4 linked regions of the Homo sapiens genome follow. The protein of the gene in region 1 interacts with the protein of each later gene in a pairwise test. Each region holds a gene or a part of one and is shown on either strand. Other genes may lie near its edges.

Evidence for each region. Proteins that work in one complex are often made in the same cells at the same time.
Region 2: the proteins of UPF2 (region 1) and RSRC2 interact in a two-hybrid assay, tested with the Homo sapiens proteins (one large-scale study listed by BioGRID).
Region 3: the proteins of UPF2 (region 1) and SERBP1 interact in a two-hybrid assay, tested with the Homo sapiens proteins (one large-scale study listed by BioGRID).
Region 4: the proteins of UPF2 (region 1) and CYBA interact in a two-hybrid assay, tested with the Homo sapiens proteins (one large-scale study listed by BioGRID).

Annotation. Positions count from the first base shown.
Region 1 is NC_000010.11:11,924,310-11,927,809, forward strand, and holds part of UPF2 (regulator of nonsense transcripts 2), read right to left. Parts: intron 1-3,500. UniProt on the Homo sapiens protein: Involved in nonsense-mediated decay (NMD) of mRNAs containing premature stop codons by associating with the nuclear exon junction complex (EJC).
Region 2 is NC_000012.12:122,516,937-122,520,436, forward strand, and holds part of RSRC2 (arginine/serine-rich coiled-coil protein 2), read right to left. Parts: intron 2,116-3,500; coding exon of another isoform or gene 2,094-2,115; coding exon 1,903-2,093; intron 495-1,902; coding exon 291-494; intron 1-290.
Region 3 is NC_000001.11:67,407,310-67,410,356, reverse strand, and holds the end of SERBP1 (SERPINE1 mRNA-binding protein 1), read left to right. Parts: 3' UTR 1-2,547; downstream 2,548-3,047. UniProt on the Homo sapiens protein: Ribosome-binding protein that promotes ribosome hibernation, a process during which ribosomes are stabilized in an inactive state and preserved from proteasomal degradation.
Region 4 is NC_000016.10:88,642,789-88,645,421, forward strand, and holds the end of CYBA (cytochrome b-245 light chain), read right to left. Parts: coding exon of another isoform or gene 2,378-2,633; exon of another isoform or gene 784-2,377; coding exon 565-783; 3' UTR 501-564; downstream 1-500. UniProt on the Homo sapiens protein: Subunit of NADPH oxidase complexes that is required for the NADPH oxidase activity that generates, in various cell types, superoxide from molecular oxygen utilizing NADPH as an electron donor.

The DNA of each region.
Region 1 (3,500 bases):
GCTGACACCTATAATCCCAGCACTTTGGGAGGTCCAGGCAGGCAGATCACCTGAGGTCAGGAGTTCAAGACCAGCCTGGCCAACATGGCGAAACCATGTCTCTATTAAAAATACAAAAATTAGTCAAGAGTGGTGGACTGCATACCTGTAATCCCAGCCACTCGGGAGGCTAACAGAAGAATCACTTGAACCCAGGAGGTGGAGGGTGCACTGAACTGAGATTGTGTCACTGCACTCCAGCCTGGGTAACAGAGCAACATGTCGTCTCAAAAAAAAAAATCTTTTTTTTAAACTACTTTTTTTTTTGAGACAGGGTCTGGCTCTGTCGCCCAACCTGGAGTGCAGTGGTGTGATCTGGCAGTCTCTGCCTCCTGGGCTCAAGCGATCCTTCCACCTCGACCTCCCAAAGTGCTGAGATTACAGGCGTGAGCCACTGCTCCTAGACCTAAACTACTTTATAATCAGTTTCCAAATAAATTTCCCTTTATCTGCTGTATAACATTACTAATATTAATAACTGATTTTTTTTAATAGAGTTTCGCTCTTGTTGCCCAGGCTGGAGTGCAATGGCGCAATCTTGGCTCACTGCAACCTCACCTCCCAGGTTCGAGTGATTCTCCTGCCTCAGACTCCCGAGTAGCTGGGATTATAGGTGCCCGCCACCATGACCGGCTAATTTTTCTAATTTTAGTAGAGACGGGGTTTCACCATGTTGGTCAGGCTGGTCTCGAACTCCTGACCTCAGGTGATCTGCCTTCCTCGGCCCCCCAAAGTGCTGGGATACAGGTATGAGCCATCACAACCAGCCTTAAAATGTAAATTTTAAAAAAGGCAAAGAACATCTGGTCCTCTAAAGGGTAAAATCTCATGTTTCCATGTTTGTTCATCTACCATGTTTATCGCACCTATACTTTAGGAGCATTGACTATAAAAATTCCATTCGTGATACTTTACAGAGTGCTATTCTTAAGACTGATGGACAAGTTAGGTTTTCTTTTTTTAAGGTGCTATTTTAAGAAAAGATCTTAAAACAGGTTGAGTGGCTAGCTCAAAAGCTAGGACTCTTACAAAAAAGAAAAACAGAGGGAAGAGCTAGGGAGCAGAACTGGAATGAGAACGTTTATTCAGTGACTGAACACAGACTGTGAAAAGTTCTTTTGTCCATTCACCAAATATTTACTGAGCACCTACTAGGTGCCAGGCACCAAGAGCTGTGAAGGAGACAGAATGGAAACAACATGAGACTTGGTCCCAGCCCTCATCGCCTGTAATCTCATGGGGAATAGAGACAAGCTAAGCGGCACTTAAGGAGGACAAGGTCTGCAGAAATACCATAAGTCATGGCAGCAGATCCGCACTGACCTATGTCAGACTCAGGAACACCAAGGCAGGACCCGAAGGAGCAGGAGTTCTCCAGGGGAACAGCTGGAGACTGTTCCACACAGAGGAGGCAAAAAGAACACAGAACTAAAGGTCAGCTAGGCTGCAGCAGGAGAAAGAACAGCAGGAGATGAAGCCAGTAATGTATGTCCACCTGCACCACAGGGCCTTGGGAACCAAGTTGAGGAGTTTAGACTTTTTATCCTACAAGCCACGAGGAGCCATTGGATGATTTTAAGCAGAAGGGCACACACAGATATCAAATTTGTGTTTTAGAAAGAACACTGGGTCTATAGCGGGAGAATGAATTGGAAAGGGTTGAAGGTTGAGACGGAGAGGCTGATGAGGAGGCTGAGGCAGCAACAGCAATCCAGGCAAGAGGTGATGGTGGCTTGACCCATGGTCTTGGCTATGGGCAGAGAATAGAAAAGGCAAGAGTGAGGGCCATTTGGGAGCAGAATGCAGAGGATTTGCTAATGAACTACATTTAGGGATTGAGGGAGGAGGAGCTGTCAATAACACAACTTCCTTTTCTTTTGTGGACAAGAGGGCAGACAACGCTTCCTCTCCCTGCACTGGAGACCCTGGGGAAGAGGAGTCTGGGGCAGGGGCACGAGTCTTCCATCTCTGAGTCACAGTGGGGTGGAAAGTCAGAAATGAAAATGTGAGATCTGGGCTGGAGACCTGGATGGAAGTCAGGCCACTGGGAGGGATGACACCTCCTTTGAGAGTGCAGAAGGAGAAGAGGGCCCAGGCTGAGCCCAAGGAACACAGACATCCCTAGGCAGGGAAGCGCAGAAAGGAGGCAGTGTCAGCAGCAGGAGCCACAGTGATCGCGGGAAGGGAAAACCCAGAAGCCAGCAGAATCACAGATGCCAAGGAAGGGTCTGTTGGGAGAACAAGGAGGGCCTACAATGCAAAGTGCTGCTGAGATGAGGCCAAGAGATGGCAGGTGGGGATGCCAGTGATGGCAGAAGCTGCCTAGACCTAGGGACTGAGAAGGTGACAGGAGTCAATAATGAACCTCTTTTCTAGCATAGCCACTGGGGTGGGCAATGCCTCCCACTGCCAGCTGTGACTTGGCAGGGGTAAGCCACCCAAGTGGGAGCAAGGAAGAAGGGGCAAGTGTAGCCGATTCTTCCAAGGAGGAATTGGAGGGAGGAAGGGAAAATAGAAAGTGAAGGAACTCTGCAAAGTGACTAACACCGGTAACCAGGTTAAGAAAGGCTTACCTCTGTTCACACGCACGTCGATGACAGCACACACATGCTCACGTCGATGACAGCACACACATGCTTACATATCTCCTGCCTGGTCCTTAACAGACTCTCACCCAAGGTTTTTGAAACAGACAAATGAAGAGGGTGGAATTATCTTTCAAGTACCCATACTCGGCTTCCCTACTGGACCACAACCGTGCAGGTAAAGACCCTGTCTTGTACTCCATCTTCCACAGTGCAGTCCTGGATGAGTGTACACGGAGGGAGGCAAATCCTACTGGATGCCCCTTATGTCATCCAACTCCATAGTGAGTCTACACAAATTACTAAGACACTATACTTGCGATACATGAATTGTGAGGGGGTTAGGGATTAATAAAAACGTGCTATTCAGAGACGTTAGGCTGCAATATGAACAGGTGAAGATGATGGAAAACATCAAGATATTATGCTGGTGCAAAAGTAATTGCAGTTTTTCCCATTACTTTTATTGGCAAAAACCGCATTACTTTTTACCAACCGAAATACAAATATTCTAACAGTTTTGGTCTCTGATGATGAGACAGGAGGGAATAGATGTTATCAAGAACACTGTGGCATATATTTAAAGCTACTCTAAGAAAATGCAAAAGCAGGAAATGAACATTTTTCATTGCCTGTTAACCTAGCTAGTGTCCACATTTTAGCAGCAATAAAACAGGCTTAATTAAAGGACTTTAATAAAGTTTGGATAATTAAAAATAACCTAATATCTTATTGTGCCTAATTAGATGGGTTTACAGGTCATTTCCAACTTGGATTTTTTTTTTAAATTATACTCAACAGATGCTAAAGAACAGATCTCTAAACTGTCTTGACAAGCCAGTTTTCTACATTACAATTTGATTAGAGTTATCTGAG
Region 2 (3,500 bases), on another chromosome or scaffold:
CTCGCCTCGTTGTGATTACAGGTGTAAACCACGACACCTAGCCAACAACTGCATTTTAATAGGCCTATTCATACCTGCACTTCGCAAGAGATTTATCAATCACGAGAATACCTGTGAATGCTATTCAAGTGGTTAGGTGTGTTCTTCATACGTTAGGTAATGACTAAAATAATTTTACCATAATCTATAAATAGAATTGTGACTCACAATTTTAATACTCTCTTACTGAGGAAGATAAACAGACTCTCTGAGGGTCCTATTAAATTTTATTCAGGATGATGGTCACCTACCGACTCCTACTCCTTGTCCTACTCCTGCTTCTAGTCCTATGCCTGTGTCTTGATCTTGAGCGGGAACGAGACCTGATCCGCCGTTTTCTTTCCCTGCTTCTGGATCTCGATTTCTTCCTCTCTCTGCTTCTGGATCTCGATTTCTTCCGCTCCCTACTCCTGGATCGAGACTTCTTCCGCTCCCTGCTTCTACTACGATGGCGTCTGAAATTAAAGTGCACAAATTTGTAATTACTTAAAAGTTGTGTTGTTTCATTTATACACATCATGAATTAGTTACTTGTAGTAACGCAATAAAGACAAGCAAGTAACTGCACTATATTATTTACAGAAATAAGCGAGATTTTCAAAGGAAATACTAACTGAAAACGAACCCTTCATTTTGTTTGATAATTTGTCCTAGAACATAGTAAACCTATTAACATGTCAAAAGCGTTCAATGCATCCTACCCAAATTTAAGCTTCCGTTTAATACTCTTCCCACAGTAGTTACAAATCTTAATACTTTAGTTTATCTACTAAAAATTTTTGAGTCTGATACCACACACAACCCACAGAATTCTCCAAAAAAAACCCCACCAAAAACCATTCACAAATTTGAGCTGTGATCCAGTTTCTCAAAAATCTTTTTATCTATACTCCAACATTAAAAAAAATCTAGATTGCAGTTTAGCAGCAAACACCAACATCACCATCGATGATGCAAAAGGACTGTTTATCAGCTTAAACCACACAGTTTAACAATATGATTTTTTCAGTGCCAGACAGATTAAGTGGTTAAAAATCTCAGCTGGGCAGAGTGACTCACTCCTGAAATCCCAGCACTTCAGGAGGCCAAGGCCGTCACACTGCTTGAGCCCAGGGATTCGTGAATAGCCTGCACAACATGGCCAAAACCCGTCTCTACAAAAAAATACTAAGAGATTAGCTGGGTGTGGTGGCGCATGTCTGTGGTCTCAGCTGCTTGGGAGGCTTGAGGTCAGATCACTTGAGCCCTGGAGGACAAGAGGCTGCAGTGTGCTGAGAGCACACCACTGCACTCTAGTTAGGGCAACAGAGAGACCATCTCAAAAAAGAAAATCTAGGCTGGGCACGGTGGCTCACACCTGTAATCCCAGCACTTTGGGAGGCCGAGGTAGGTGGATCACCTGAGGTCAGGAGTTCGAGACCAGCCTGGCCAACATGGCGAAACCTCATCTCTACTAAAAATACAAAAACTAGCCAGGCATGGTAGCACATGCCTGTAATCCCAGCTACTTGGGAGGCTGAGAAAGGAGAATCACTTGAACCCAGGAGGCAGAGGTTGCAGTGAGCCGAGATCATGCCACTGCACTCCAGCCTGGGCAACACAGCAAGACTCCGTGTCAAAAAAAAAAAAGGGAAAAGAAATCTAGGCACTTGAGATTTAGTCATCCCTTACACCCCATTCTTGGAAACCATTTTTGCATGATGAGAAAGCAAAGCCCAAAGGCAAAAAACAAACAAAACCACAAACCCAAACAAACGAACAAGAAAAACTCCCTAATTATGATTTTTTTGGGTGTTGCTGGGTCAATGAGAAACTTTATGTAACTTGTTAGAAGGTACTACATTATAATACAACATGACTTACCTTTCACGAGACCTAGATCTTGAGTGACTTCTGCCTCTTGATGACTTTCTTTCTTTGCGTTTGTGCCTGTCCTCACCATTTTCAGATGAATTTAGTCGCTCTCTTCCTTTATCAGAAGAATGTTCTTTGTCATTATGTTCCTCAGACTTATGTTTCTTAGAGGATTTATCTTTGGATTCATGTCTTCTTCCCTGTTTTAAGAAGAAGTTGGTTCTTTCAGGAAAATAGTGCAACAAAGAGAGTTAGTATGGGTATCAGTAGACAAAAATGTTGTGATGCAACATTAGTAACCTTAGGAGTGTGTGGCAAATAAAAAAAAGATCTAGTTTCACATCACCCAAATGTTGCAGATGTAATTACTATTTTTTTTACTATAAACACCCAAAATGTAGTTCCTCCCCAAAATATTTTCAATACAACAGAAACAATGATTTTTAAAGTTGAAATATTGAAAAGCCATTATGCCAGACAAAAGAGGAATCCCTTATGTTTATCTAAAAGAATACAGACCATGTATATACATCAACTTCTAAATCCAGATTACATAATGTTAAGTTTAAGTAAGTAATGGAGATAATGACACAAAAAGTGCACCAGAAACGCATTTCAATTAGGTAGCTAAATATAATTATTACTAAGTACTAATATTTTCTATAATTTCAAATTATTTTACACAGAGATGCAGTGTCCCTTTTACAGTTATACTGCCTGCTACATCCTCTAAAAGACAGCTCTTGATTTTCCTCCCAATGTCTAAACTGTGAAGCAATCACTTTTCATCTTGCAGTATCCCAATAGGCTTAGAGGAGTATTACACTTCATGTACCTAGGGTAGAAATGGCAACTGTATGTTTCAATTTTAAAGAAACCAAACTAGGTATAACAATCCACATGCCATCACACAATACATACTGCCCCCACACTTTAAAAAGACCAAGGCCTTCACATGTGCATTCAGAGACTCAGCTCAAATTAACTGCATGATCAAGTCTCATCCTACCAAATACCAAAGTAGAAGTGCTACATACTACAGTTCCCTACAGGAAGATCTGTCAAATTCATCTTGTAGTGAAAGTTTAAAATCCTAGACATCTCTGAATCACTAAATTTTAATTCTGGAAGGAAACTAAGATCCTCTAACTTAATCCCCTTATTTTATGTATAACTAAGATCTAAAGTTACAAAGCTACATGGGTGAGCTGAACCTTCCCCATGTTTTTCTGATGCCCACGCTACCACTTTTCCACTGTAATAAGACACTACTGTCTCCCAAAAGGCCATAGCATGTTTCTTTCCACTCACGATTAATGTTTCTTAAAAATAAAACTTGGCCAATCATTTTGGAACATGCATGATGATTTATCTGAAAATGATCATAGTACATAATTTATTATTTGCAGAAAAATAAGAGACCTGGAGACACAATTAAATTTTAGTTTCATTGCCAGTTCTCTATAGGAGCTTAGAAAAGAAATTTTCCTTGGTTTTGCTATAACGAGGCAGACTGGAAAAGTCTTAAGTGGTTAAACTTCTAAAGGTTTTAAAGTTTATTTCAAACCAGTTTTTCAAACATAACATTACTATTAATTTAAAAAAAA
Region 3 (3,047 bases), on another chromosome or scaffold:
TGTTATTTTTCTAGTTGCCAGAGATGGTTGCACTGAAATAGAACAGGGAGTTGCATACAAAGCCTAAATGTGTATTGGATTTCGAAAATACTAGGTTGGTGCAATTGGTTTTGTACCAACCTAACATGTCTTTAGGAAAGTACCATCATGTGGAAGGAAACAACAGGTGTTAAAAGGTTCAAAGGAATGAGAAATAGGAAGTTACTAGAACCTAACTGATGTTGACCTTAGAGGTAAGATTATTCAGGTATATTAGTGGACCTCCAGTCCAATGGTATAGCAAATTCCAGGGATCTCAGGTGCATGCAATTTTACTTTCTAAAGTAAACACTTAGAAAATAGATTATAACCCAGACGTTTTGGATTATACTGAGACAAATATGTAAATAAGTTTTAGCAAGTCTGAACATGTACCAGCGAGATCTTCAGGTTAACTAAGAAAAGCCCAGAAACTTCATTATTTACTGTGCTTTGTATGGCATAACTGGTAACAAGGCAGTAAAATGATACATATTTGAACTGGACCATAGTAATTAAATGATTTATCAATATCATTTGCAAGATAATTGTCAGGTTGAGTTAATAGTAAGTGGCAGCTTCCCAGAAATTTGGGTTATTTGGCCTAAGCTGTGCCCTGGGATTACCTCTTCATCTTCCTTGACTTTTAAGTTCAAATTTGGAGGTTATGTGAAGTGATTGAAATAAATCTTTCAGGCTGAGGAAGTCGGTAATTTCAAGAATATAGTGAAAACAAGGTTGTAATCTAAACATGAGAAGCTTAAGTTTAGGAAATGGTTAGAATATAAATTGCTAAAGCCATCATGATTTTGGCCACAGATGAAAATATGAACACTGGAAATGAGCGCCATTTAAATGAGATGCTGTATGTAAGCCAGGGGTCAGCAAAGTTCAGCCTGTGACCTGGTGTGTGTGGGGGTGTGTGTGTGTGTGTGTGTGTGTGTGTGTGTGTCCGTGTCCCTGAGTTAAGAATGGTTTTTAGGCTTGTATAGGATTAAAAAAAAAAAAAACCCACAGAAAAATGTAGGCAGCCCAGCATAAGATACCGCCTTTCACAGAAATGTTTGCTGACCCCGGAACTGTCACTCTCGGGTTACAAGAGTTTGTTTCTTTGAAACAGTCTGGCTCTGTCACCCAGGCTGGAGTGCAGTGGCATGATCTCAGGTCACTGCAGCCTCCACCTCCCGGGTTCAAGCAATTCTGCCTCAGCCTCCTGAGTAGCTGGGATTACAGGTGTGCACCACCACAGACAGCTAATTTTACAGGTGTACACCACCACACCCAAGAATCACTTGAACCCGGGAGGTGGGGGTTGCAGTGAGCCAAGATCATAGCACTGTACTCCAGTCTGGGTGACACACTGTCTGAAAAATAAAAGTTTAGTTCTAGGTACAAATTAAGTGGTCTACCCAACAGGAAGCTGTGAAATTAGAAGTAATTTTAAAGCATACTTTACACCTCTATATAATCAAAGTAAGGGCAAGATAAAACTTGTTAGTAAAACATGTTTTATTATTTTTTAGATAGGTAGCCTGCAACATAAAATATATTTTGAAAGCTGTTAAGGGGTGTATAATCTGTTAAAAAATACCATGATTAGTATTTCACATTTAGTGACTCAGATCCCTTTGTGTAAGTCCTTTGCGTTGTGCAAAGAGGTTTTTCTATGAGATGAGAATTATGAACACTTCATATAGGTAAATTCCATAGGTTGAGCTGGGGCAGAAATTAATGGCTCCTGGAGATTGCATCTTTTTTTTTTTTTTTTTGAGCTTAGAATTCCCATTTGGACAGAATTTAGCTTTTGTGCTGTTGATTACTTCTGTACTAAACTGGTAGCCAATTGTTCACTTCTAAATGGAAGGGAAAAAGTTACCCACACAAGTTAGAAAATGATTTACCGAATTATTTTTTTGAGTTAGTATGTATATACTGTTTTAAATCAGTAATGTTTGTTCCTTTTGCTGCCCATTTGGGAGTATGTGGCAATTCCTAGTGCTCTTGTATGACATTACTCTTCTTGAGACTTGTATATGCAAGAAAGTATATATAAAAGATGCCTGGTGGTAACTTTGTATCTGAGTTCTGATTCATTATGGACTTTTAGAAATCTATTTAGATAATTGGTTCATACTAGGTGCTCAATTACTCTGACCTTGTGTGGCTTAATCCTTAAATAGTTGCTTTAGGTGTTACTGGGTGGAAGCATGGAAAGTGAAGGGCTAATATTAAGGATTTTTATGTATTACTGAGTAGGGAAAGTGGGAAGTAGCTTATCTTTGGACAGTTGTATTACTTTGCACTAATCACCTTGTTTGCAGTTGTAGCTGATTCAGTTCTAGATTTTAGGACCAAAAAGATCTCTAATTTAAAGAAACAGTTTTTATATACCTAGAATGAAGATTCTGTTTAAAGCGGTTTTGGTTAACTTGGTTCTTGACATTTGCCTAAAATTTTGTTGGATTGGGACTAAAATGTTCTATTAGCCAATGAATAACGTCCAAGTAAATTTTTGTTTTATTTTGGGAACTTTGTATATTGAATTCTTTGTTTTACACGTAACCCACAAAGAAATGTTGCTTCATATGGCAGCTGCACTCAGAGTACTAAGATAAGCATGTGTTTAGACATTTTCTAGACATTTTCAGAGTGCTCCGACAGCTGGGGTTCTTTTGGAAAGAAATGGACTGAAAGTGGGTGGGTTTTGTATTTTTCCCATTACATGACGACATGTTTAGGCCTTCATGATTGGTGTGAACTAAACACATATCTTTGTTTAGAGATAAGACAATTGGTTTGTGTACTTACCCTGAAAATTCATAATTTCGTGTTTTTTGTTTGTTTGTTTTTGAGATGAGTCTCACTCTGTTGCCCAGGCTGGAGTGCAGTGGCGCGATCTCGGTTTACTGCAACCTCTGCCTCCCGGGTTCAAGTAATTCTCCTGACTCAACCTCCTGAGTAGCTAGAATTATAGGCGCCCGCCACCACGCCCGGCTAATTTTTTGTATTTTTAGTAGAGACGGGGATTC
Region 4 (2,633 bases), on another chromosome or scaffold:
GCCCCTGCAACTTGGCCTGAGCGTCCTGGGCAGCTGGGGGGCCCCCCAGCATCAGTGTGGGGGCAAACAAGGCCACATCCGCCACCAGCTTCACCCCAGCTTCTACGGAAAAGAGGCGCAGGGTAGAGGCTCACCACGTGGCTCCGACCCTGTTCCCTTTTCACTTAACGCCAGCGGCCTCCTCTGGAATCCAAGCCCCTTAGGGAGGCGTTAGGTGTGGAGGGCCTGCAGGGCCTGCAGGAGCTGTCAAGGGAGGACTCTGCTGCCTCCTCCAGGCCCGGGAGGACCTTTCTAGGGAGGCACACACCTGGAATCCAGGTACTATATTTCGTGGAATATACGGTACCCGGGATTTCGTGTGCTGCTGAGAAGGAAGGCGATGCTGATGTTAATGAAACTGGAATGCGGCCCGGCTGGCAGGAAACGGGGTGCCTGCCCAGGCCTCGGGAACCATCGCTACCCCAGCCCCGCCCACCGGCCCCAGGCAGAGGCTCACGCGCTCCCGGCTTCGCTGCATTTATTGCAGGTGGGTGCACCTGGCGGGAGGGCAGGTCCGGGGCGAGGTCACACGACCTCGTCGGTCACCGGGATGGGGTTGACCTGGGGACCTCCCGGGGGTCCCCCCGCCGCCACCGCAGCCTCCTCCTCGCTGGGCTTCTTGCGGGCCTCGGCCGGGGGCCGCGGCGGGGGGTTGCTGGGCGGCTGCTTGATGGTGCCTCCGATCTGCGGCCGCTCCCGGGGCTTGGGCTCGATGGGCGTCCACTGCTCGCCACGCACAGCCGCCTGCGGGGCACTGAAGGGTTGAGCCGCGCCCCAGCGCCCGCCCTCCCTCCCTCCCTCCCTCCCCGGAGGCCCACCCCGCTAGGGGCCCTGGGACAGGCTCAAGTCTGAATCCCACGCAGGATGGTGTGACTGCCACTCAGAGAGGTTAAGTGACGCGCCCGAGGCCACACAGCCAGGACCTGGGTCGGCCTGACACCAGCCCAAGCTATTTCTTCATGCCAGGAGTGGGGCCCGAACCCCTGGGCTTCTGGAAGATCCCGTGGTGGACACTCCCAGATGCAAATTCTAGTACTCAAATTCTCCTCTCAAGGTGCCAAGGGCAGGGAAGGCAGGGAGGCAGGCCCGAGGTCCAGCAGGAGGGGTGGCCCAGGAGAGTAGCAGGCCCTGCTCCGTCTGGTGGGCGCCATTCACCCACGCTGGCCGGCAGCCCCCCAAGGGTGCCCAGGCATTTCTGCACATGGGGGTGGTGGGGGGAGAGCTTGAAGACCACGGGATTCCACTGGCTTTTACTAAAAATACAGACTCCTGGGCCCATGCCCGGAGGTTCCACTGCAACAGGTCAAGTGGACCTGGGAGTGTGTGCTTTTCATCTTCTATCCCATAATATCTGGTGGAAAAATATGTCACATCATATACGTCATGAACAGAAAGAGAAACTGGACATGTGTGATCCTACCTGACTCCAAAACGGAAACATTCCATTCTGAAAAGCAAAACTAGAAGGCTGATAGAAGAAAAGGCAGGAACGTGAAGGCAGGACCCAGGGCCAGGGAAAGGTGTTTTCACAAAGCACAGACCATAGAGCAGGTGAACAGGGAAACCTCTGCTCTTCCGTGCAGTGAAGGACTCCACGCGCCAAGTTAACAGACCCTCACCAGAAAGCATGAAGGCATCCCCAGTGTTTAAAGGTTACAAAGGCTAAATAGCTAAAATATATGTGGACTTCCTGCAACTTAAGAAAAAGACAATCAGGCCGGGCGCGGTGGCTCACGCCTGTAATCCCAGCACTTTGGGAGGCCGAGGCGGGCGGATCACAAGGTCAAGGAGATCCAGACCATCCTGGCTAACGCGGTGAAACCCCGTCTCTACTAAAAATACCAAAAATTAGCCAGGCATGGTGGCACGTGCCTGTAGTCCCAGCTACTCGGGAGGCTGAGGCAGGAGAATTGCTTGAACCCAGGAGGCGAAGGTTGCAGTGAGCCGAGATCACGCCACTGCACTCCAGCCTGGGCGATGGCGCGAGACTCCATCTCAAAAAAAAAAGAAGAAAAAGAAAAATACAAAAACCACAATAGAAAAATGGGCAAAGGATTTGAACAGGCAACTCAAGGGAGAAGAAACTCCAACAGCTCAAATCCACAGTCAGAGAAGGGCGAGTCCAAGCTCCACACGGCCAGCTCGTGCTGTGAAACTGGCAAGCGTGGGAGAAAGCCTAGTGCATGGTGGGAGAGATGGGGCCACATGGCTGGTGGTGGGTTGTCTGCTGAGGAGCAGCTGAGCCCGGCAGGGTGAACGGTGCAGAGGCTGATGCCTGACCCAGCAATTCCTCTCTGGGTTTAGCACAAGGAATTCCTCCCGAGGTCTCCAGGAGCCACTAGCTGTGCGTGGCAGCAGGGAGACGGGGGGGATGCGGGTGGCCCCCGGAAAACAAAGCAACAGCCCAGATGAGCACTTGGCAACAGGAAGGGGTTCTAAAGGAGAGTTCTGCCGGTGGCAGGTCAGTGAGGCTTGAAACAGAACTCCACTTCCATACGCGGAAGGCGTACACAGAAAGTGCTGCACCTTTCCCACGCACACACACTAGAAGACGCACAGCAAGGGGAGGGCAGTTGCCTCTGCGGGCAGGAGGG